Linked DNA regions of Homo sapiens. The protein of the gene in region 1 interacts with the protein of each later gene in a pairwise test. Each region holds a gene or a part of one and is shown on either strand. Other genes may lie near its edges.

Evidence for each region. The genes of interacting proteins can lie anywhere in the genome.
Region 2: the proteins of CDR2 (region 1) and ZGPAT interact in binary tests that used the Homo sapiens proteins (3 or more experiments, as listed by UniProt).
Region 3: the proteins of CDR2 (region 1) and TCHP interact in binary tests that used the Homo sapiens proteins (3 or more experiments, as listed by UniProt).

The regions. Positions count from the first base shown.
Region 1 is NC_000016.10:22,364,341-22,371,913, forward strand, and holds part of CDR2 (cerebellar degeneration-related protein 2), read right to left. Parts: intron 675-7,573; coding exon 562-674; intron 1-561.
Region 2 is NC_000020.11:63,703,991-63,711,355, reverse strand, and holds the start of ZGPAT (zinc finger CCCH-type with G patch domain-containing protein), read right to left. Parts: upstream 3,318-7,365; 5' UTR 3,238-3,317; exon of another isoform or gene 3,168-3,237; intron 2,804-3,167; 5' UTR 2,776-2,803; coding exon 2,192-2,775; intron 1-2,191. Other genes in the region: ARFRP1 (ADP-ribosylation factor-related protein 1), read left to right, coding at 4,265-4,357, 4,618-4,705, 4,917-4,999. UniProt on the Homo sapiens protein: Transcription repressor that specifically binds the 5'-GGAG[GA]A[GA]A-3' consensus sequence. Represses transcription by recruiting the chromatin multiprotein complex NuRD to target promoters.
Region 3 is NC_000012.12:109,910,274-109,917,590, forward strand, and holds part of TCHP (trichoplein keratin filament-binding protein), read left to right. Parts: intron 1-789; coding exon 790-962; intron 963-2,717; coding exon 2,718-2,799; intron 2,800-4,168; coding exon 4,169-4,354; intron 4,355-5,129; coding exon 5,130-5,273; intron 5,274-6,317; coding exon 6,318-6,350; 3' UTR 6,351-7,317. UniProt on the Homo sapiens protein: Tumor suppressor which has the ability to inhibit cell growth and be pro-apoptotic during cell stress. Inhibits cell growth in bladder and prostate cancer cells by a down-regulation of HSPB1 by inhibiting its phosphorylation.

The DNA of each region.
Region 1 (7,573 bases):
AGCAAAACATCTGAACACACTGTGAAATCAGGAACTATGATTTTTTTTTTTCAAATTTAGGATATGGTTTGGTAGTAGGTGGGAGGGATATGTCACCAAGGAGGAGGTATAAGTTCCCTCTCCGGTGGGAAGTTCAAGAGTGTGGGCAGTCTTCTTTTTTAAGCTAGGTGGTGGATATATGGGTATTCACTGTATTGTTCTCTTACCCCATTCTGTATATCTTAAATATTGCATGTTTTAGGCCGGGTGTGGTGGCCCATGCCTGTAATCCCAGCACTTTGGGAGGCCAAGGCAGGTGGATCATCTGAGGACAGGAGTTCGAGACCAGCCTGGCTAACACAGTGAAACCCCATCTCTACCAAAAATACAAAAATTAGCCAGGCGTGGTGGCAGGCGCCTGTAATCCCAGCTACTCGGGAGGCGGTTCTCATTCTCAAAAAAGTTTGTGTTAAAAAATAAAATGCTGCATCTAATTGCAAGTGCTTTTTTACCAGTATGTGATTGGCATAACAGCAACACATCGAAGTGTCAAAAGTGTAACTCTCCTGCCAAGTGAATTACCTCAATTTCCTGTAACTGCTCCTGATTGGTTGTATACATCTGCTGAACAGAGTCCTCCAACTCTGTGTTCCGATCCAGTAATGTCTTCCCAAGCTCAGCAGCAAGTTGAAGATCTAGCACAACAAATGAATCTTAGAATAATACAAATGATCTCACATCAACAATTTATATAACCCAGTCCTTCAAAAAAGAACATGTAGTTTAAGTCACATCCCAATGGAAGGTGGAGTGGCACAGAAGGAAACCCGAGTTCTACTTAAAATTCAGTTAAACTGACGCCTCCAGCAGGTAATGTATTCTCTTATGTACCCATACTTGTAAGAAGTGAAAAATGGTCATCTACTTTATGGAGATGCAGTTATTTGTTCAGGAATGATCATTCCGCAGTGTTACTTCTAAAATCCTATTTGCTAGTACAATGAATGTATTCATATCCTGACAGTCTACTTTTTTGAATGGACCCTTGAGCCAAGGTATAGGTGGAGCTTTCAAAAATCTTTAAAGTTCCCATGAATTTGCCTGCTGTGAATACAACTGTTAAAGTTTATTGTCATATATCCTGGACTCCTAAGGGGACTAAAATTTATTAAGTCAAGAAAAGGAAAAATACATCAGCATTAAGAACACTGCCCCAGGTCACTCTACTTCTCTTCGTGTCCTTCTGTAAGATGAGCAACTAGAAAAGCAAAACAGAAATGTGGTTTTTGAGGTAATTACATGTCAGTAGCTCATACTTCCATTTAGCACAGAACCATATTTTATTTTAAACCTCATTTTTCAACTCTCTCTATTCTTAGGTATAATGCCCATAAAACAGGATTTGTTTATATTATACTCAACTCCCAGAAATGAAAATTTAGTTAACAATATAAGAAAGGACACTAGTTGTAACATACGTCATTGAAATACTTCTTTGCATAGTAAATCTTATGGAGCAGTCCTTTGATACAGTGGGAAATGCACTGCACTCTGGGCAGGTAAGTCTCAGGCCCAGTTCTATCATTTACCAGAACACTTTCAATATGGTGACTTTAAGGCCCCTATAGTTAGTATTCTTGTTTAGAGAGATGACTGTCTTATCAATATAAGATTGTGAAAATCAAATGAAATAATACATAAAGGAGTACTTTACAAACTAAGTTGCAATACGCACGCAAAGTACTATTAATAGTCATTGATTCACAAATGAATGTTTTTGTTGCCAGGCACTATGCTAAGCATTAGCTATAGAACAGTGAATAAAATGAAGTCCTGCTTTGCTGACATTCCCAGATTAGTGGAGGAAGCCAGACAAATGAGTAACTAAACTCACATACTGTGATAAACAGTATTCATGCATGCATGCATATACTCAATAATATCAGACACTATTCTAGGCACTGGGATGGTGCCCAGGAGCCATAAGGAACTCACATTAAAAAAATATCCCTGCCCTCATGGAGCTTATATTCTACTGGGAGAAACAGCACAATAAAACTTGATAGCGATAAATGCTAAAGAGAAAAAAATAAAGCAAGGAAGAAGTACAGGAGGAGTGTGGATGTGGGAGGCTGAAATTTAAGAACATGTGACCAGGGCCACATTAGAATCAATGTGTGAAGGAACAGAATAAGTGACCCATGTGTATCCATCAGGGAAACAGCACTCCAGGCAGAGGCAAGGCAAGTGCAAAGCACCTGGGAGGAAGCATGACTGAGTCATTAAGGAGGCTGAGGAGGGTGGAGCAGAATGTATTGGGCAGGGAGGGGAGGGGGAAGACTCAAATCAGAGGGGCTCCAAGATGGCCAGTTTGCGGAGGGCCTAACTAAAGAGGTCAAGAGTTTGGCCTTTACTCCAAATGAAGGAATCCAATGGAGGTTTAACAGGATCACTCCGGCTGCTGTTATACAGGGTGAATGGGACAAAGGTGGGAGCAGAGTGACAGAAAGATACTGCAATCGTCTGGGTGAGAGATGATGGTGGCTTGGACCAGGGTGGCAGAGATGAAGATGGGAGAGGAGGGGCAGAATTCTGACATGTTTTGAAAGTAAAGCTAAAGGATTTGTTGACCAATTCAATATAAAGTCTAAAAGATAAAGCGGGGGAGAAAAACCTGGATTTGGTGATAATGAACAAAGGGCTTTCTTTTTCTGTCTCTTTATTAGGCACGGTCTCGCTCTGTTGCCATGCTGGAGTGCAGTGGTGCACTCATGGCTGACTGTAGCCTTGGATTCCTGGGCTCAAGTGATCTTCCTGCCTCAGCCTGCCAAACAGCTGGGACTACAGGCATGCACTACCAAACCCAGCTTACTTACTTACTGATTTATTGTAGAGACAGGGTCTTACAATGCTGCCCAGGATGATCTCAAACTTCTGGCCTCAACACATCCTCCCACATCAGCCTCCCAAAATGTTGGGATTACAGGCATGAGCCACTGTGCCCAGCCTAGGGCCCAATTTAGAAAGGGAGGTCATAAGGAAGGTCTGACAAGACCTTTTAGCTGAAGCTTGAAGGATGAAGAACTTGCCATGAATTTGGCATATTCTACAACCTGACAAGCAGCCAGTATGATAGAAGCATGAGGGATCAGATCATATAGGATTTTATAGCCCATGGTAGGTAAAGTTTAAATTTTATTCTAGGTATGATGGAAAGTAGCCTCAGTTATTGTCATAAAAGTATTATGAAAAAAATTTATCATAAAAACAAGGAAACTCACTACATAATGATTTTTAAACTTAATTTTTAGAGGTTGACAAATAAGGCTTAATGGCTATCCACCACTACTCATAGTAAAACTTAGCATTGAGTAAATGGTAACAACAGCATTAGTTGTTGTAATGTCCACTCAAGTGCATAATTAGTATTCTACTTGGTTAGTTTTCACTCTGGAAAAAGCAGCAAAACCTACCACACCCAACTCCAGATCATTTAAAAACATTTTACACCCATTTAAAATAAAACAGTATACTGTTGGTAGATAGGTGCTAAAATACATTCTCTTGTGATTTCAAAACTAACAATGTCTATTAGTCATTACATTCATTAAGACTTTAGAGGCCAGGTGCAGTGGGTCATGCCTATAATCCCAGCATTTTGGGAGGGTGAACCAGATGGACTGCTTGAGCTCAGAAGTTCGAGACCAGCCAGGGCAACATGGTGAAATTACATCTCTACCAAAAATACAGTGAGGCCCTGTCTCAAAAATAAAAAAATAAAAAATAAAGACTTCCATTAAATCTATGAAATAACTTGTATTTACAAAACACAGAACTTTTACAAATAGCTCAAAGCATTTAAGAGACATTAGTCTTTTTCTTGTCATTATTTATTTATTTTTTTTGAGATGGAGTCTCTCACTCTTGTCACCCAGGCTGGAGGGCAGTGGTGCGATCTCGGCTCACTGCAACCTCTGCCTCCTGGATTCAAGTGATTCTCCTGCCTCAGCCTCCTGAGTAGCTGGGATTACAGGCACCCACCACCACACCTGGCTAATTTTTGTATTGTTAGTAGAGATGGGGTTTCACTATGCTGGCCAGGCTGGTCTCGAAATCCTGACCTCAAGTGATCCGCCCACCGCGGCCTCCCCAAGTGCTGGGGATTATAGGCATGAGCCACTGCCCCCAGCCTACTTTTTGTTTTCTAGAGACATTAGTCTTTATATCTTTAAAGGTATTTAGTCCAGTTTCTCAGATGAGACAGCCTGAAGCACAAAACTGTTAATTGACCTAATCAAGCTCCAAGGTGAGTCACAGATCAAACAGAAACTCTTAGGTCAACAGGTTCTCACTCTCACTCTCATCACGATTCTTTGTTATCTTCATCTGCAGAGTTTTAAGGCAATTGAAAGAGAGGTCCGCAGGCTTCTTTAAGGTAGAGAATACAAATGTTCCCCTTGTTGAGGTACTTAATTTCTTCTACTTGTTTTCACAGATTGCAATGAGAAATTAGAGTTCAACTATTTGGGTTTTTATTGCCTGCTCTGCTAGTGAAAGCACATACAACCCCAGGCAAGTTAATACCCTGTTTTCACCAAATGAAAAAGGAACTATGTATGGCTCAACATGTTCCAGAAAAAATGATTTTGTACTCACAGAGTGTGTAATGTGTATACATAGACCCATATGGAAGCTACCACACTGTATTAAAGACAAAGTATAAAAACATTACCTAGGTATTACTTAAGTCTTTCCTTCTTAAATGTGTGAAGTGGTAATTCCTCACTGGGAAGGCTCAGATTCACCAAAGATGCTCTTAACCAGCAATCAAAGCCTGAGCCAAGGACCGGGTGTGGTGGCTCACACCTGTAATCTCAGCACTTTGGGACGCCAAGGCAGGAGGACTGTTTGAGGCCAAGAGTTCGAGACCAGCATGGGCAACATAGCAAGACCTTGTCTCTTAGCAGGAAAAAAAAAAAAAAGAAAAAAAACAAAACCCAACTGGGCTGAAACCTCTCCCAGAATCCAGACTGTCTTGAGACTATCACCACTTTCATTCAGTTATGGAACTACCTGTGCTACTTAAGAGTAGCCAGGAACCTCTTCCCTGCTCCTGCAGAAAGAGATACCAAGGACAGCACTCTTTAGTAGATAGCAAACAAAAAAGAATTTGAGACTTGTCCTTATCTCAAACCTTATTTCCAGTAAAACAAAGCACCAGCCTGGCTCAGAAACCTGAAGTCTCGATCTCCTAAATATTTATAGGCTGTTAAGGATAGAATTTTAACAAGTCCCAACTACAAGAAAGCTCCTGTGAAGTCACACTGTATAACAGGATATTACTTCATCTGTTAGCTTAAAGACACCGGACTTTGTCTTTAAAAAAAGTTCATTTCCTGTTGAGTAGCAGCTGGCTTCCATAACCAAAAGAGGCCAAAAGCTGGCAGTAAGCCCAAGAAAGTTTTCTAAATAATTAGTGGAGGGAATAGAATATTGAATGTCCCTTATAGTTTTAATTAAGGCACAAAAGAAAAGGAAATAATATAGTTTCGAAGCCTTATACACCTGTTCATCTCTACAGGATTACAAAATGAATTTTCATTAAGAGGGTCTTCTCTAAATCCTATTGAACTGGCCTGGTTTAGGCAACTACTAAAAATACTGTAGATTTATTGCAGGCTTGAGAATTTCAACATATCAATACCTTCATATGTTGAATATTCTTTCACTAATGAGTCTTTGCAGGTAATAATATATTTTTAATGGTGTAAACTGTTAGCTTTAAACAGATACTCAGCTCTATGCTTTAGGCAAAAAATTAGTACTGGCAGCTGTAGTCTGTAGGAGTAATTCACTAACAGTAAGGCTGAAAGTTTTTCCTATTACAAAGTCAAATGCGTCATTTAGTGATGCTTCTGTTTAACTCCTGTTGCCAATGTTACTATAATTGGGAAAGCAGAAAACCTGAATATAAATATCAAGAAAAATGATGTTGTCAGTTTTAATAACCCTCCAAACAGTGATTCAGCAAAATAGTTGTACACAAGGAGGATGTACTCATCCTGCAATTTTAGGATTCCTTTAAACTAAGAGTTCATTTACTGATCCACATAACAGAAACCTGAATCCTTATTCTAAGTTTGCACAGCTCACCAAATGACAATAGCAGCTGGTTTAAAAGAAAATCCAGTCTCTGAAGTCTTTCCACCTTGTTCTCAGGGGCATGTTTCAAAGCAAGCACCATCATTACCTGCACTGAAGGCTCCTGCTGTCCCAGAAAAGATCTTACCCACAGAGATTATTGTCAGTATTCCTACTGAGCCAACTCAGCTCTCTGACAAAAGACAGTCTCTTCATCAAAGAGTTTTGTAACAGCAAAGGGTTTTCTCCTCCTGCCTACACAAAAGCTTTACATGTTTCTAACAAGGTATGAATAGTAGACCAGAGTTTACTGAGGTTAGAAATTTCCAGCAATTTCAATTTAAAAACGGATACCCTAGGAAACTTTGATACAAAGATTCAATCTATTCAGAGCATGGCTTACTACTGCTAAAGGAAAACATTCTATAGTTGTAAGATACTGAGAACAGGATCATTAAAAGTTGTTTTCCAGCCAGGTGCGGTGGTTCACGCCTGTAATCCCAGCACTTTGGGAGGCCGAGGCGGGTAAATCACGAGGTCAGGAGATTGAGACCATCCTGGCTAACATGGGGAAACCCCGTCTCTACTAAAAATACAAAAATTAGCTGGGTGTGGTGGCACGTGTCTGTAATCCCAGCTACTTGGGAGGCTGAGGCAGGAAAATGGCTTGAACGCGGGAGGCGGAGATTGCAGTGAGCCAAGAGCGTGCCACTGCACTCCAGCCTGGGGACAGAGCGAGACTCCACCTCAAAAAAAAAAAAAAAGTTTTAAGCAGTTCTCTCCAAATAAGCCTTGCTCAGTAATAATAATGAGGATGTTAAAAAACGGACAGATGCCTGCACATAAAATCCCACTAGACTTGCTGAATAATCTGTTTAACAGGACAGACCTGCTCCCAAACTTAATTCAGCAGCAAGTGTCTACTGAGGGCCTACAATGTACGAGGCGCTGTAGTGGGCACATCCCATGAGGCGGCACCTCCAGGCTTCTCTAGTGAACAGATTCCTGGAACATTCACTCTATGGGAGTAGGAATCCTACCTATCCACTCATGTGGGGAGGTGCTGTGGCCCCAGGGCCCAGGCGAATACCTGGCAAAGAGCAGATAATACATTTTTGAGAAATGAACAAGTTTTAAAATCTGTTAAAAGTTTAGGAGTTAACATATAACTTAGCAAAACTGGGGAAAGGATACCCTTTTATTCACACTGTAGCCTTTATTCTTTGACAGGCCATATTCACAAGTTACAATTGTTGGAATTTCACATCTTCTACTCGTACTCCATATAGTTGGTTATGACACAGAGGGTTAAGTCAAAGTCCACTGTGATAACGTAACAGCCCTTTGAAAAACACAGAAATGCAACTGGCAGTAAAGAGGTTCAGATATGTGTGTGTGTGTGTGTGTGTGTGTGTGTGTGTGTGTTTTGAGAGGGAGTTTCGTTCTTGTCATC
Region 2 (7,365 bases), on another chromosome or scaffold:
GGGCTGTTGCACAGATGAATGAAAGTATATGAAACCCTTGGAGCAGTGCCTGGCCCAGAGGGAGCACCACAGGGATGTGTCAGATCTCTCATCAAAGGGATCAGGAATTCGAGACCTGGGTAATATGGTGAAATCCCGTCTCTACAAAAAATACAAAAATTAGCTGGGCGTGGCAGTGCACACTTGTAGTATCAGCTATTAGGGAGGCTGAGGTGGGAGGATGGCTTGGGCCAGGGAGGCGGAGATTGCAGTGAGCCGAGATTGTGCCACTGCACTCCAGCCTGGGTGACAGAGCAGCAAGACGCTGTTTCAAAAAAAAAAAAAAAAGGAAGACATTCAAAGAACTAGAACTAGAACTAGGGATGGTTACACGGTCAGCCTGAACTATTGGCTAAAAAAGAAAATTACCTACTAGAAGGCTTGGTAAATATTTCTTCTAAGAGAAAAGTAAAAAGGAGGAAAAATAAAGCTATGCGCTTAGGGAAATAGAGACATTACAGTAATAATTGTTCATATTTGAATATGGAAGAGGTATTACCATTAAATGTGTTACCTATTATGACACAGAAGTTACTCTTTTTTGTCCTCACATCGGACTTGGACTTCCAAAAAGTTACTTTTTAAGTAATTTCCTAATCAGTTAGATTAGAGATGCAACTATGAAGTATTCATAATTGGAAAAAACCAGTAACTTCTGGAATTTGCTTTAAAATGGCCCAGGAAAGAAAAAAATAGGGCAGGGAGAACAGACAAAATGAGACTGGGAAAATATTAATAAATGACGACATTGGATGATGGACCGTGGGCGGTGATTATGCTAAACTCTCTAATTTGGGGTATGTTTGAAAATCTCCATGAAAGTAAAATTTAAAAGTTGAACTCTAGAGAATAAAACTAACAACAGGGCCAGGCGCAGTGGCTCACGCCTGTGATCCCAGCACTTTGGGAGGCCAAGGTGGGTGGATCACGAGGTCAGGAGTTCAAGACCAGCCTGGCCAAGATGGTGAATCTCCGACTCTACTAAAAATACAAAAAATTAGCCCAGTGTGGTGGCGGGCGCCTGTAATGCCAGCTACTCTGGACGCTGAGGTAGAGAATTACTTCAACCCGGGAGACAGAGGTTGCGGTAAGCTGAGATTGCGCCACTACACTCCAGCCTGGGTGAGGAGAGTGAAACTCTGTCTCCAAAAAAAAAAGGCCAGGCGCGGTGGCTCACGCTTGTCATCCCAGCACTTTGGGAGGCCAAGGTGGGCGGATCACGAGGTCAGGAGATTGAGACCATCCTGGCTAACATGGTGAAACCCCGTCTCTACTAAAAATACAGAAAATTAGCCAGACATGGTGGCGGGCGCCTGTAGTCCCAGCTACTCGGGAGGCTGAGGCAGGAGAATGGCGTGAACCCGGGAGGCGGAGCTTGCAGTGAGCCGAGATCACGCCACTGCACTCCAGCCTGGGCAACAGAACAAGACTCCATCTCAAAAAAAAGATAAAAAATTATAGTAATATAAAAATTAGCTGGGTGTAGTAGCGTGAGTCTGTAGCCCAGCTCCTAGGGGGGCTGAGGCAGGAGGATCGGTTGAGCCCAGGAGGTCCAGGCTGCAGTGAGCCAGGACTATGCCACTGCACTCCAGCCTGGTTGACAAAGTAAGACCCTGTCTCAAAAAAAATTAAAACAACCACCAAAAAAAAACTGACGATAGGCTGGAGACCTACTCTCTTCCACATAAGCCTTGCACTGCTGCTCGGGCTGCAGTACAGTGGCTGCATCTCCACTCACTGCAAACTCGGCCTCCTGGGTTCAACCAATTCTCCTGCCTCAGCCTCCTGAGTAGCCAGGACCACAGGTGCGCGCCACCACGACCGGTTCATTTTTGTGTTTTTAAGGAGATGGGGTTTCACCATGTTGACCAGCGTGGTCTTGAACTCCTGACCTCAGGTGATCTGCCCGCCTCGGCTTCCTAAAGTGCTGGGATTACAGGCGTGAGCCACCGCGCCTGGCCTCCTTCCATGCTTCTTGATTCACCCCAGAAGGAAGACGTAGACGCCTGAACACAGACACAGCTGTCAAAGCACGCCTGCCCCAGGAAGCTGAGACAAAACTGCAAAGCAAAGGGAGGGCCGATCCTGACCCGACCCTGTGTGCGTGCCCCTTACGCCCCTAAGGTTGGCATCTGACAACAAAGGGCTTTACCTGCAGTTCTCCTTAAAGCGGCACTTTCCCTCCAGGAAGAACGGGCACGGCTTCAGAGACTTGTGAGTGGGGTACAGGTAAAGCACACGGACACCCGCCGAGCCATCCTCCGCCTCTTCCGTTCCCACCACCATGGCGTTGTGATACTCCAGAGTGCCCCAGGAGCTGTAGTAGGGCGCGCTCACCTTTGTCCCACTCAGCTCTTCCTCGTCCTCTCCCTCTTCCTCCTCCTGCCCACCTGCCGCAGATTCTGGCCCCGCCTCTGCTTTAGGAACGGTCTCTGATCCGGACCCACGGGCCGCTGCTGGTGCCTCCACCGCCTCAGTGATGGCCTCCCGGAAAGCCTGGTACTCAGCATCTTCCTGGCGGCCCGGGCGCTCTTCGTCCAGCGCGGCCAACAAGCTGCTCTTCCTGACAGACACCAGGCTGGCCTCGGTGAGCTCGATGAGCTCCTTCAGGTCCCCCTGCAGCTGGCGCAGGTCAGCCTGCTCAGACGAATCCAGGCCGGCGCCCAAGGCCAGCTCCACCTGCTGCAGCTGCGCACGGTAGGTCTGCAAGGCCGACTCCAGGCTCTCCTCGTCCATGCTGAGAGAGGGAGGCGCTGGACCAGGGCTGCAAGAAGAGAAGCCAGCTGAGCCCCGCGTCTCGGGACCGACCCCACAGCCTGAGGGCGGGCACGGGCACGGGCACGTCCCCTTTCCCTCGGGGAGACACCGGCTCAGAGGCACAGCTCCCAGCGCAGAGGTCGCAGCCCGGGTACCCCCGCTCAGGCTCCGCGCTTCCCTTCCGAGCCGCCGTGGGCTCGCCGCTAGCCGGGTCCCGCGTCACTCCGGAGCCCCTTCCCCGCGGGGCGCCCCGCCGCCTCACCCTCCGCCGAGCCCACCCGCCGCGCCCGCCGCCTTCCAGGCCGGCCGCGCCCCCCCGCCCGGCGTCTCTTCTGTCTGGCCAGGGCCGCGTCCCCGCAAACCGCGGCCACCTGGTCCCCGGCCGGGCACCTCCTCCGCGCGGTTTCCCAGCCGCAGCCACAGAGAGCCCGCCGGCCTCACCGGCTAGAGCGGCCCGGCGCCCCCTTTTCGCCCCAGCAGCCGATCGGCACTTCCTCCCGAGCGCCGCCGCTTCCGGAAGTGCTTGGCGCGCGGGGGCAGCCGGGAAGCGGAGCGCGGAGGCCGCTGGGACGCGGTTCAGCTCATTCCCTGAGGCCGGCCCGCGTCCCGTCAGGCGCCGCGCGGGGTTAGCGCGGGGTCAGCGGAGGTCAGCGGGGGTCAGCAGCAGCGGCTCCGAGGGCGCGGCGGACGCAGGTAGGCCGCAGGCTGTGCGGTGAGGCGCGAGGCCCGAGGGGCGGCCCAGGACTCGAGGTGGGACGCGGGTGTGACAGGAGCCAGCTTTGGCTGCTTGTCGGGGAGCCTCAGACCTGGCGGCGGCGGCTTGGGGCGGACGTAGCCGGGGGCCGCGACCCAGGTTCTTCCTTCGCAGTCGTTCCCTGCCAGCCGCGCGCCGCCTCCAGGTGCACTCCAGGAGCAGCCGCGCCGCTGCTCACCCGCCCTGTAGTCCGCTCCCCCCAGGGCCGTCCCCGTTTTAAGAAATGGGGTGATGGGGCGTCCCTACCCGGCGCCTGCAGGGGCTCCTGGGGAGCGCGCCGGTGGCTCGCTGCTCCCGGGTGGGGCGCGGGGCTGGCGCTCGAGGGTGCCGTGGCCCAGGCGGGGCTGCAGCGAGTGTGTTCCCCGTTCCGCGCGCGTGAAGCGTGGGAGCGAAGCCTCGGGGGAGGGCGGGAGCGCGGCTGAGCTCACTGTGAACACCCGGCTGGGTAGTCCCGCGAGCAGGGGAGGGGCCGGAACCGATGTGTATGCGGAGAGGTCGCAGTCATTGCTGTGAGCAGGACACAGTGGCGGCTGACCTGGGAGAAGTTACAGAGGGACGGGGTGGGAGAGGGACGAGGAGTCGGGAATGGCCCCCAGGCTCTCGTCCTGAGCGGTCGGCTGGACGTGGGGCGCCACTGACCACCGTGGAGAAGCCCGGGGGAGGGGAGGTGCTTTCTGGCTGCACACTGACCTATGTTGGGGTGCCCAGGGCAGGATGTACACGCTGCTGTCGGGCTTGTACAAGTACATGTTTCAGAAGGACGAGTACTGCATCCTGATCCTGGGCCTGGACAATGCTGGGAAGACGGTGAGTGCCCACGCCCTTGCGCGCACCTTTCCCACGGCCTGGCGGCGCCCCCTTCGGTTTTGTGCTGTCAGCTGCACGTTCACTACCCAGACGGAAGCCAAATTTCACCTGAGACGGCAGGATAGTCACCACCAGCCTCCTGAAGAGCAGAGTGTTGCTCTGTTTCTGTTTCTGTCTTTTAAAGAACAGACCTGAGTAAGGATATTTGGAAGCCAGTATAGCCCCTCCTTGATGTGTTTCGCCTCTGCCTCTCTCCTCAGACCTTCCTGGAGCAGTCGAAAACCCGATTTAACAAGAACTACAAGGGGATGAGTCTATCCAAAATCACCACCACCGTGGGCCTAAACAGTAAGGGTCTCAATAGCAGGCTGTGGGTTTGGGGCCTTGAGGATGCCGTGATATTCACAGTCCAGCTGGCCCGTGGCCACAGCCCTGTCGGGCCCCTCTCAAGTCTCATTTGAGTGGCACCAGCATGGTTTGCCCCATCCCCTGGGAGAGCTGGGACTGGGTGTGTCGAGGACCAAGGTCATGAGCCTTGCCTGTTTCCTCCTCTCCCCAGTCGGCACTGTGGATGTGGGAAAGGCTCGGCTCATGTTCTGGGACTTAGGAGGGCAGGAAGAGCTGCAGTCTTTGTGGGACAAGGTAAGACTCCCTGGCCAGGACCACCCCCACCCCAGCCCTCCAGTGCCACTTCTTTCCAGAGTGCCCTTTGGGCCCTTCCTCAGCAGTTTTCCTTACCCACTCTGTCCCTCGGGTTTTCTCTCTGGTCCTGTCCCAGGTTCCCGAGTGGCTCCCTGTTTTGTCCCAGCTGAACCCTTAGCTGAAGTTGCCCCAAAAGTGGTGGTAGGGGAGTTTCCCACTTGGGAGTTCCCTGCGATGGGGCCAGTGGAGAATTCCAGGGAAAGAATCACTAAATGCCAAGGCGATCAGATCAGAGCATGTATTAGGGGAACCTGTTGACAGAGTGCGGCATCCTCAGGTGACCAGTGAGAGAAGGGCGTGTTCACTGGTCATGCCTGAAGCCGGGGGGGATCTGGGTTCAGGGCTGGGGCTAGTTTCTTTCAATGTTTTGAAACCTGAACATTATGTTAACAACCTAAACATCTTACAAGTGTCTGGGAATGTTCAAACCCTGGCTTGGGTTTGAGCCTAAGGGCAACCTCGCTGGCCAAGTCAGAGAGGTCAGGGCAGTCTGTTTCTTTCTCAGTCAGGACAAGACAAAGTGTGGGGACCTGGGGACCCTGCACTCCTCCAAAGTGAGTGCCTCCTTTCGGCTCAGAGACCTTGCTGCTGACCACCACAGGACACAGAAATGGCAAAGACCAGATGTGGGGACGGCAGGATGGCTGCCTCTCCCCTGATGAGGTTCCTTCAGTTCTAGCTTAACATTTGTTCTTCCATGATCACCAGAAGACTCCTCAGGGTCTCACAGCGGCAGTCTCCTATTTTGACACAGGTTTTGGGCATTTCTGAGATCCCAGTGTGGTGCCCCTTCCCCACACCCCCAAGGCTGCAGTTTATCTCCTTCTCAGCCTGGGCCAGGCACTGAGTCCAGCACTGAGCAGGGCAGAGCCTGTGGCTTCCTCGGGCTCCCTGCCCTAGGCTGGCACAGTGGGTGTGGGGTGTCCCCAGTGCCTTGGCTGCCCTGATGCCATCTCTAGAGCTGAGTGCCCAGGTCCTGATCTCTTTTTTGATCCTAGTTCCCCTTTCCTAGGCGCCCCCAAAGTGTCCCCTCCTGCTGTGACTTCTAGCCAAGAAGACATTTCTCCCATGGCCAAGTGATCTCTGATAGATCCTGTAGGACCACTGAAGTCAGACAGGACAAGTTGAGTCAGGGCCTGTGTGTCCAGTGCGCAGCATGCTTGGGGAGTGACACAGATGATGATGATCTTGTCACAGGCCGGTGTCTCAGGCACAGATGCTGAGACAGGTCGAGGTACAGGATGCACACTGGGGGTCGGCACCAGGAAGGCAGGGAGGACGGGAGAGGAGAGGTCGACTCAGGCAGCAGGATCCACAGAGCTGTGGTTGGCCCAGCAGGGAGCCCTGGAGGAGAACTGGCTATGCTGTGCCATGTGGGGCCAGGCTGGCCGGGACTTCACACCATGGCCTGGTGGGTCCCCAGTGTGGGCTGCCCTGGGCAGGTGTGACCTGGCAGTGTGGCTCTTTGCAGCCAAAGTGGGTCCCACAGAAACCAAAATGAGACCATCTGCTGGTGCAGTGTTCTCCAACATGAAGCAAGAATACAGTGGGGCCAGAGATGCCTGCACTGGCCACAGCTGCAGCCCTATGTGGACCCACACTTCCACGTTGGAGAGGGGTTCCTCCAAGGTCCTGAGGGCCTCTCTTAAGGCGAAACTGGAAGAGGGAGACTTAAGGGGGCCACTGTAGCCCATCCTTGCTGCTGGTCTTGGGGCTGCACAGCCCTTCCTTGAGTGCCCTCCCAATTCACTACCACTTCTGCTGGGGTGCGACTTCCTGGCAGTCTGAGCCCTTCTCCAGACACCACCGTGGTGGGGCCAGTGGCTCCCTGGGTCCCCAGCTGTGGGACAGCTGTGGGATGGCAGCCCCATCTCCTGCCCACCAGGGTCTCCTAGACATGAGGTGCAAGTCATGCCCATGAGGCAGCTGTGGCTCGTCATTCAGCGTGTCTGCTGAGTATGTGCTGCTCTAGTGGCCGGGACCCCTGACCCTGCTGAGCTCAGAGCTGGGAGGATCAGCTGCAGGGACCCCCCTAGGTCACTGGGAGGGACCGGAAGGGAGGCCCCTGCTCCCACCCTGGTTTCCTGTATCCTGCATCCTTGTGCAGAGCCAGCACCACAGAAAGGGGCGTCATTGCGAATTGGCCTCGTCCTGGGGCTGGACCCTGGGTTGGTGTCCACATGTGTGGCATGTGCCAGGACCTCAGCTCCTGGGTTCTTTGCTGTAACACTAGTCTCTCAGGCTGGCTGGCACTTTGCAGTTGGGGAGCTCCCATTGCTGCTGGGGAGAAAAACTCAGACCCACAG
Region 3 (7,317 bases), on another chromosome or scaffold:
ACTGCGGTCAGGGCAGGACATGGGGCACAGTGGCATGGTTGGTCCTGGTGTGCAGCTGTTTTTTATGGGGTCTTGCTCTGTTGTCCAGGCTGGATTGCAATGGCGCAATCACGGCTCACTGCAGCCTCAACCTGCCAGGCTCAAGCCATCCTCCCACCTCAGCCTCTCGAGTAGCTGGGACCATAGGTGTACATCACAATGCTTTGTAGAGATGGGGTCTTGCTACATTGCCCAGGCTGGTCTTGAACTCCTAGGCCCAAGTGATCCTCCCACCTCAGCCTCCCAAAGTGCTGGGATTGCATGCATTAGCCCCAGTGCCCAGCCTCCTGCATTATTTTAATGCTTCCATTATGTTGATGTACATAGTAGCTAATTCCCCACCAAGGAGCATTTTGGTTGTTTCTGGTTTTTCCCTCTTACCTAAAAGCTGCAACGAGTGTTTTGCACTTTTGTGTCACTGTGGTCTTTGTTCTTATAAGTGGGATTTTTGCCAAGTTGTATTCCAAAAAGTTGTGCAACCAGGTGTATCCGAGGGCATGTGGTGGTGGCTGGGTCTCCCTTTAGCCAGAGAGAAGCTCCTAGGCCTGTGCAGTGTCTGAACCACCCCTCGTGATTATCCCCAGTCTGTTCCAGAAATAATCCAGGATCTTCCCATCTCTGTCTTGAGAACACTGTGTAGAATCACGAATGTCTATGTAGAAAGGAAAGGGAGGGCAGGCCCCTCTGTAGGCTCTCATTGCAGAAGGACTCTGTCCAGCCCAGCCACGTGCCGCCCTCTGCTTCCTCTAGGAGGCAGACAGGCGGATCCTGCAGGCCCTCCTCGAGAAGGAGGACGAGAGCCAGCGCCTCCACCTGGCCAGGCGGGAGCAGGTCATGGCCGATGTGGCCTGGATGAAGCAGGCCATTGAGGAGCAGCTGCAGCTGGAGCGGGCGCGGGAGGCAGAGCTGCAGATGCTGCTGAGGTGAGTGGCAGCTGCTGACTGGGCTGGATGCTCCTGGCCTCAACTCTGATACCTTGAAATGCCCCATGGGTCACCTGTTACTGAAATATCTATTGGCTGGGCGTGGAGGCTCACACCTGTAATCCTAGCACTTTGAGAGGCCGAGGCAGGTGGATCGCTTGAGCCTAGGAATTTGAGATCAGCCTGGGCAACATGGCAAAACTCCAGGCTCTACCAAAAATACACAAATTGGCCAGGCGTGGTTGTTCATACCTGTAGTTCCAACTACTCGGGAGGCTAAGTGGGAGGATCACTTGAGCCCAGGAGGTTGGGGCTCCGATTAGCCATGACTACACCACTGCACTCCAGCCTGGGTGACAGAACGAGACTCTGTCTCAAAAAAAAAAAAAAAAAAAAAAGAAGAAGAAGAGATAGCTGTGTATGTTGTCCATCATTCCTGAGGAGCACATCTTCATAATGGACCTGGCCTCTGGGGGTGTTTCCCTTGTATTATCTGAGGTGGAAATCATTAAGGTTTAGAGTAACGATGTGTTCATCTGAAATCTTAGAGGTTTAGAAGGAAATTATTTTTTTTTTTTTGAGATAGAGTCTTGCTCTGTCACCCAGGCTGGAGTGCAGTGGCATGATCTCGGCTGACTGCAATCTCTGCCTCCTGGGTTCAAGTAATTCTCTGCCTCAGCCTCCCGAGTAGCTGGGATTACAGGCGCCCGCCACCACACCCGGCTACTTTTTGTATTTTTAGTAGAGATGGGGTTTCACCATCTTGGCCAGGCTGGTCTTGAACTCCTGACCTTGTGATCCGCCAGCGTTGGCCTCCCAAAGTGCTGGGATTACAGGCGTGAGCCACTATGCCCAGCCAGAAGGAAGTTATTATAGAGATGTTGAATGCTGCTTACATCTATAAAACTGAGTTTGGGTCCTAAAGACTAAACTAGTAGATTGAAATCATCAAATAATAAGTAGCATACATTGAGCACTTACTGCATGCTGGACACTGTGCCGGGTGCTTTACAGGCCTCATCTTACTGAGTCCTGACATCCAGCCAAGTGGTGGCTTGTGAGACCCGGAGACTTGAAGAGGTCACTCCGTCCAGGGTGAGCTATCAGTGACACAGGCATGCGGTGGCAGGGTTCAGGCACAGGCAGCGCCCTCCTCTCCATGTTCTGATGGTTTCATTCATCTCTGTGTTAAACAGCCACGGTGTAAGTCATCCCAATTCCTTTTTATAAGGAGATGGGGTATTAAAAGGGTAACTTAAAATACTTCCAACAGGGCCAGGCACGGTGGCTCACGCTTGTAATCCCAGCACTTTGGGAGGCCAAAGCAGGTAGATCACTTGAGATCAGGAGTTCAAGACCAGCCTGACCAACATGGTGAAACCCTGTCTCTACTAAAAATACAGTAATTGGCCAGACATGGTGGCACATGCCTGTAATCCCAGCTACTCAGGAGACTGAGGTACTAGAATCGATTGAACCTGGGAGGTGGAGGTTGCAGTGAGCCGAGATCGCACCACTGCACTCTAGCCTGGGCAACAGAGCGAGACCCATCTCAAAAATAAAAAAAATGAAAAACTTCCAACAGTACTTTCCGTGGATGCTGTCCTTAATTGTAATCTTTTCAAAGTGCATGTGGATGTTTATCTGCAGTGTGGTCCTGCAGAAGCCATGTGCCCTGCAGCCCTGTCTGTTCCGTAGCTCGCTTCCTGCCAGGGCGGGGAGGAGCCTGCTGTCATCCCTTTTGTGTTTGCCCAGGGAGGAGGCCAAGGAGATGTGGGAAAAGAGAGAGGCAGAGTGGGCCCGAGAGCGCAGCGCACGGGACAGACTGATGAGCGAGGTAATCCCAGCTGCGGCGATGTGGACCGGCTGTTGGGTCTTGGGCAGGTGTCTGGAAGTCCATGGTCAGTCACCCTGCCAGATGCTCTGGGAACAGAGTCTTCTCTGGTCATTTTAAGTGGGCTTTAAAAATCATTGAAAAAGTAATATGAGCTTAGTAGAAAAGAATTCAGAAGTACAGGAAGTAGAAATGGAAAAAAGTCCCCCAGAGCCCATCCTGTATGCAGCCGTAGCTGCTGCTTCTGTCTGCTCTTCTGTTTCTATGCCTGACATTTTTTCTACATGTATTTCTTACTGTCTTGTGCTATTTGGCTTCAAGCGTTGTGACATGCTGTTACATCTTTATAAACGGCATGTCAGGGGCTGTATCACGGACTGTCCTCTGTCACCCGCTGCCTTTCCATTCCCTCTTATGGGTGTGCTGTGTTGTTCTAATTGGAAGCCATTCTGAGAAACGCTGCAGAGAGCCTCTTGGTGCCTGAGGCTCTTCCCACACGTTTCCCCCCTCGGGGTAGATGACAGCCGTGACCTGGAGGACATAACTGCTTTCCTGGTCAGTGTGTACACTGTGCGTGGAAGATATACCCCAACCGCAGAGAAATCTGGGAGGAGAAGAGAGAGTGTTACCCATGGGCTGAAAGCTGTTGTAAAGTGGTTTCAAATGAGAAACTCTACGTTGTGTCTGGTAGTATGCTGTATTTTGGAATCCACAGGAAATTGGGTCGTGATTGGTGATGTTTTGCTCTTGTAAATACCAAGAATTCTCCAGTGCCTTTTGATTTTCCTCATTTAAATTTCCCTCCTGATGGCGGCCACTTTCTGTTCCCCCCAGCCCTGCAGCCTAACTGTTGAGAGTGTCAGGTGGTTTTCTGCTCCTGACTGTGGCCTGGGCTGGAGTTCAGATGTCACACGGCTCTGGGGCCAGGTCTCAAACACAGCAGGTTCAAAAGGTTAGAGGACCACCCCAGCTCCACCTCTGGTCATCTGTGTGGCTTGTGGCTCTCTTGTTTTTGGAACCCGCTGATAGGAAGGAGACTCACCTTGTTGCTCCAAGGTTTCTCTGGCCCCGGGGAGACAGCTCCATCCCCATCTCCTTTGATTTCTTTGGCACTCAGCTGTCTCTCCATAGTACACAGTCTGGATACATTTTGTGTGTCTTGGGTTGCGAGGGAAACATTTCTTGTATACTGGCAAGCGTGGCCGACATCGTGAGAGCAAATCCTGTCATCTGGCTCTGCCTCTGCGTACCTGGGCCTGAGGCCCAAGGATGAGGCTGGGCCTTGCTGTGGCTGCAGCCTGTCCAAGGCTTGTAGAACCAGGATCTGTTAGGGTCAACCTCAAAGCTGCCCTTTTCTTTCTGCTGAGGTTAGGTTCTGACAGGGAGACAACAGCAAATACAAGAGAAGATTGAGCAGAACCGACGGGCACAAGAGGAATCCCTGAAACACAGGGAGCAACTTATTCGAAATCTTGAGGAGGTGAGAGAGTTGGCTCGTCGCGAGAAAGAGGAGAGTGAAAAGCTGAAATCGGCCAGGAAGCAGGAGCTGGAAGCCCAGGTAGGGCTGAGCCCAAGGGCGGGAGGCACCGGGCCTGCCAGGTTCTCTGCATCATCATGGGACAGGGTTCAGAGCCGCTGGACTGCCTGGCAGGGCTTGCGCACGTTTGAGAGCACGGTGCTCCCGTTTCCATCCCAGCTGCAGTCCTCATCCTCTTGACTGTGGCTTCTTTCCCTCCACATCCTCCATGTCGTGTGGGTGAGGCCGGTACTGCTGTCTGTTCTCTTTACTCTGTCTGCTTCTGCAAGCAGTTGGCTTACCGGGGGCCATAGATCTCTCTTCATTTCAGTCCCTGATACATAAGACAGAACAGTCCTCCAAACACCTGGCCACAGGCCGAGCTTTTCACGAGGTACACGCCACGCATATGTATAGCCTCTCCAGCTTTCCATGAGGTACACGCCACGCATACAGCCTCTCCAGCTTTCTACGAGGTACATGCCATGCATACAGCCTCTCCAGCTTTCTACCAGGTACACACAATGCATACAGCCTCTCCAGCTTTCCACGAGGTACACGCCACGCATACAGCCTCTCCAGCTTTCCACGAGGTAAGCGCCACGCATACAGCCTCTCCAGCTTTCTATGAGGTACACACCATGCATACAGCCTTTCAAGTCCCGCATGCTCCCTTCCGTTCCTTGGCACGTGCATTGCTGTTGCTCAGCTGGATTCTCCAGTCTGGGTAGGGCCGCAGGCTTACCTTCCTCATCAGAGGCAGGGCTCTGCCCTGTGGGCCTTGTCTTGGGGTGGTGACTTTGCTCTTGGCACTCAGGTTGCAGAGCGCCGGCTGCAGGCATGGGAAGCAGACCAGCAGGAGGAGGAGGAAGAGGAGGAGGCCCGGCGGGTCGAGCAGCTCTCAGATGCCCTGCTGCAGCAGGAGGCGGAGACTATGGCTGAGCAGGGCTACCGGCCTAAGGTAGGAAGTCTGCCAGGATATAGGCCAACACCGGCAAGACAGACTCTGCCCGGCCCCTGCTCCCCTGGGCCTGCTCATCGCCCCGCGCCGGGGTCTGCTCTCCGGCCGTCCGGGTTATTCCTTGTTTCTCTTCTCTTGTATTTCTCTCTTCCCTGACCAGCAGGGAGCCCTGACACAGGGGCTGTTCCAGTCCTTGGTTGGGCCTCAAACCTTGAAGTGATTTTGCTCTGGCCTTGCCTACTAAGCTGCATGCCTGTCCACCCTCTTTGGTCAATCTAAGAAGAGCTGTGGCCACAGCTGCTGAGAGGGGTCAGAGCAGTAGATCTAGGCCTCAACTGTTGAGACAGTGAAGCCCGATGAACAAGAGACCAGTCCTCCTCCTCACCTCCCCTCCCTCCCTCCTGTGGGTGTCCTCTTCCTCCCCTCCCTCCCGTGTGTGTATCTGTTTCTCTGCCTCTCAGTGTCTTTGTTCCCGGACCTGTCTGCACAGCACCATGGGGAGCACAGAGAAGCAAATGCTGCCTTCCCTGCCCTGAGGAAGCTGATGACTGAAGCACCTCCACTGCTGGCTTGTCCCCTCTGCCCTCCTTTACCTAGGGCCACCCTGGCCACCCGGTGCCTAGAGTGCATTCCCCAGGACACATGCTGCAGAATGAGGGCTGGCTCCCTTGTGGTCAGATGACACTGGGAAACTGAGTGAAACATAATTAGAGCAGGTGCTGCGTTTGCCATAGGCCACTCGCCCTCAAACACTGACTGTCACAGTCACAGGGAACAGCATTTCCTAAACCCACTTGGCCGTGGATCAGTGAGAGTGTCAGGGTCAGGGTTTCACAGATCATATGTGAAAGTGTTTCTTAGGGCTAGTACTCAAAACCAAAAAGATATCAAGTGCCTCATTTATGGCTTAGGGTCAGATTTTTTCAGCTGGAAATGAAACAGCCATTTATATTGTTCTTTTAGCTTGTAGTTAAAACAAGGTTAATTCCTCATGCTGCAGATACTGCTGATCTGATCACTCTTATGTTTTCTTTCTTTTCTCAGCCTTACGGACATCCAAAAATTGCTTGGAACTGACTTCATGGGTACCATAAGTACAGAGAACAAGGGATGCTGAGGCTTCTGATCCCAGCCGCCAGGCAGTTTTACAGGGCTCTGTTAACAGTAAGTGCCCGGGGCACTGTCAGATGGCTCAGCAGTGCCTGCTCAGGTTCATCATTGAAACATCCCAGTGTTTGGCCAGACATTAAGGTGTCGTGAGAGTCCCTTTCATGCCTTTCTTACCCAAGCAAGGGTCTTTGATGGGCACGTGTTTACAGCGCTGCTGCATAGTCTTGTAATATATTAACAGTCACATCAACTGAAGGTCAATACTAAGAGCCACAGGTTGTACCTGTGATGGGGCGTGTGGTTTCCTGTTGTCTCACCTTTAATTGTCAACCTCCAGTGTTGACTCTAGAAATATGAGGAAAGCTTTTCAGTTTTTAAAATTGCCATTTAAATTTAGTCTATTAAAAACAAACCTAGAGGTCTTGGTGCAGTTGATTTCAGAGTTTATTAATTTAGTGGTCCCAAAAGTATTACATCTTTTATATTCTGGAAGAAAAGAACTGTGAACAAATTAGAACCCCGGAACACTCTGACGTCCATGGACGCATTCCAGAAAAGTGGCAAGAGATGAGTCTTTCCTCCTCCAGGAAGCATTTTGGTAGAATTTCCATAGAGCATTGTCTGTGAGTGACTGATCCCAACATGTATGTTACTAAGCCCCAAAACGAACTTCAAACTGGGTGTGGTGGCACGTGCCTTTAGTCCCAGCTACCCGGGAGGCTGCGGCAAGAGGATTGCTTGAGCCCAGGAGTTCGAGTCCAACCTGGGCAAAAGAGTGAGACCCCATCTCTAAAACCAAAAAGGTACCTTAGAAGGTCACCTGGTTGGCTAACCTTTTAAAGGCAGGGGCGTGACACGTAGGACACATTGGGAATGTCTTGGCTACTACATGTAGCCTTCTGGGATATATGTGCCCAGAGGGAGAAGCACTGAG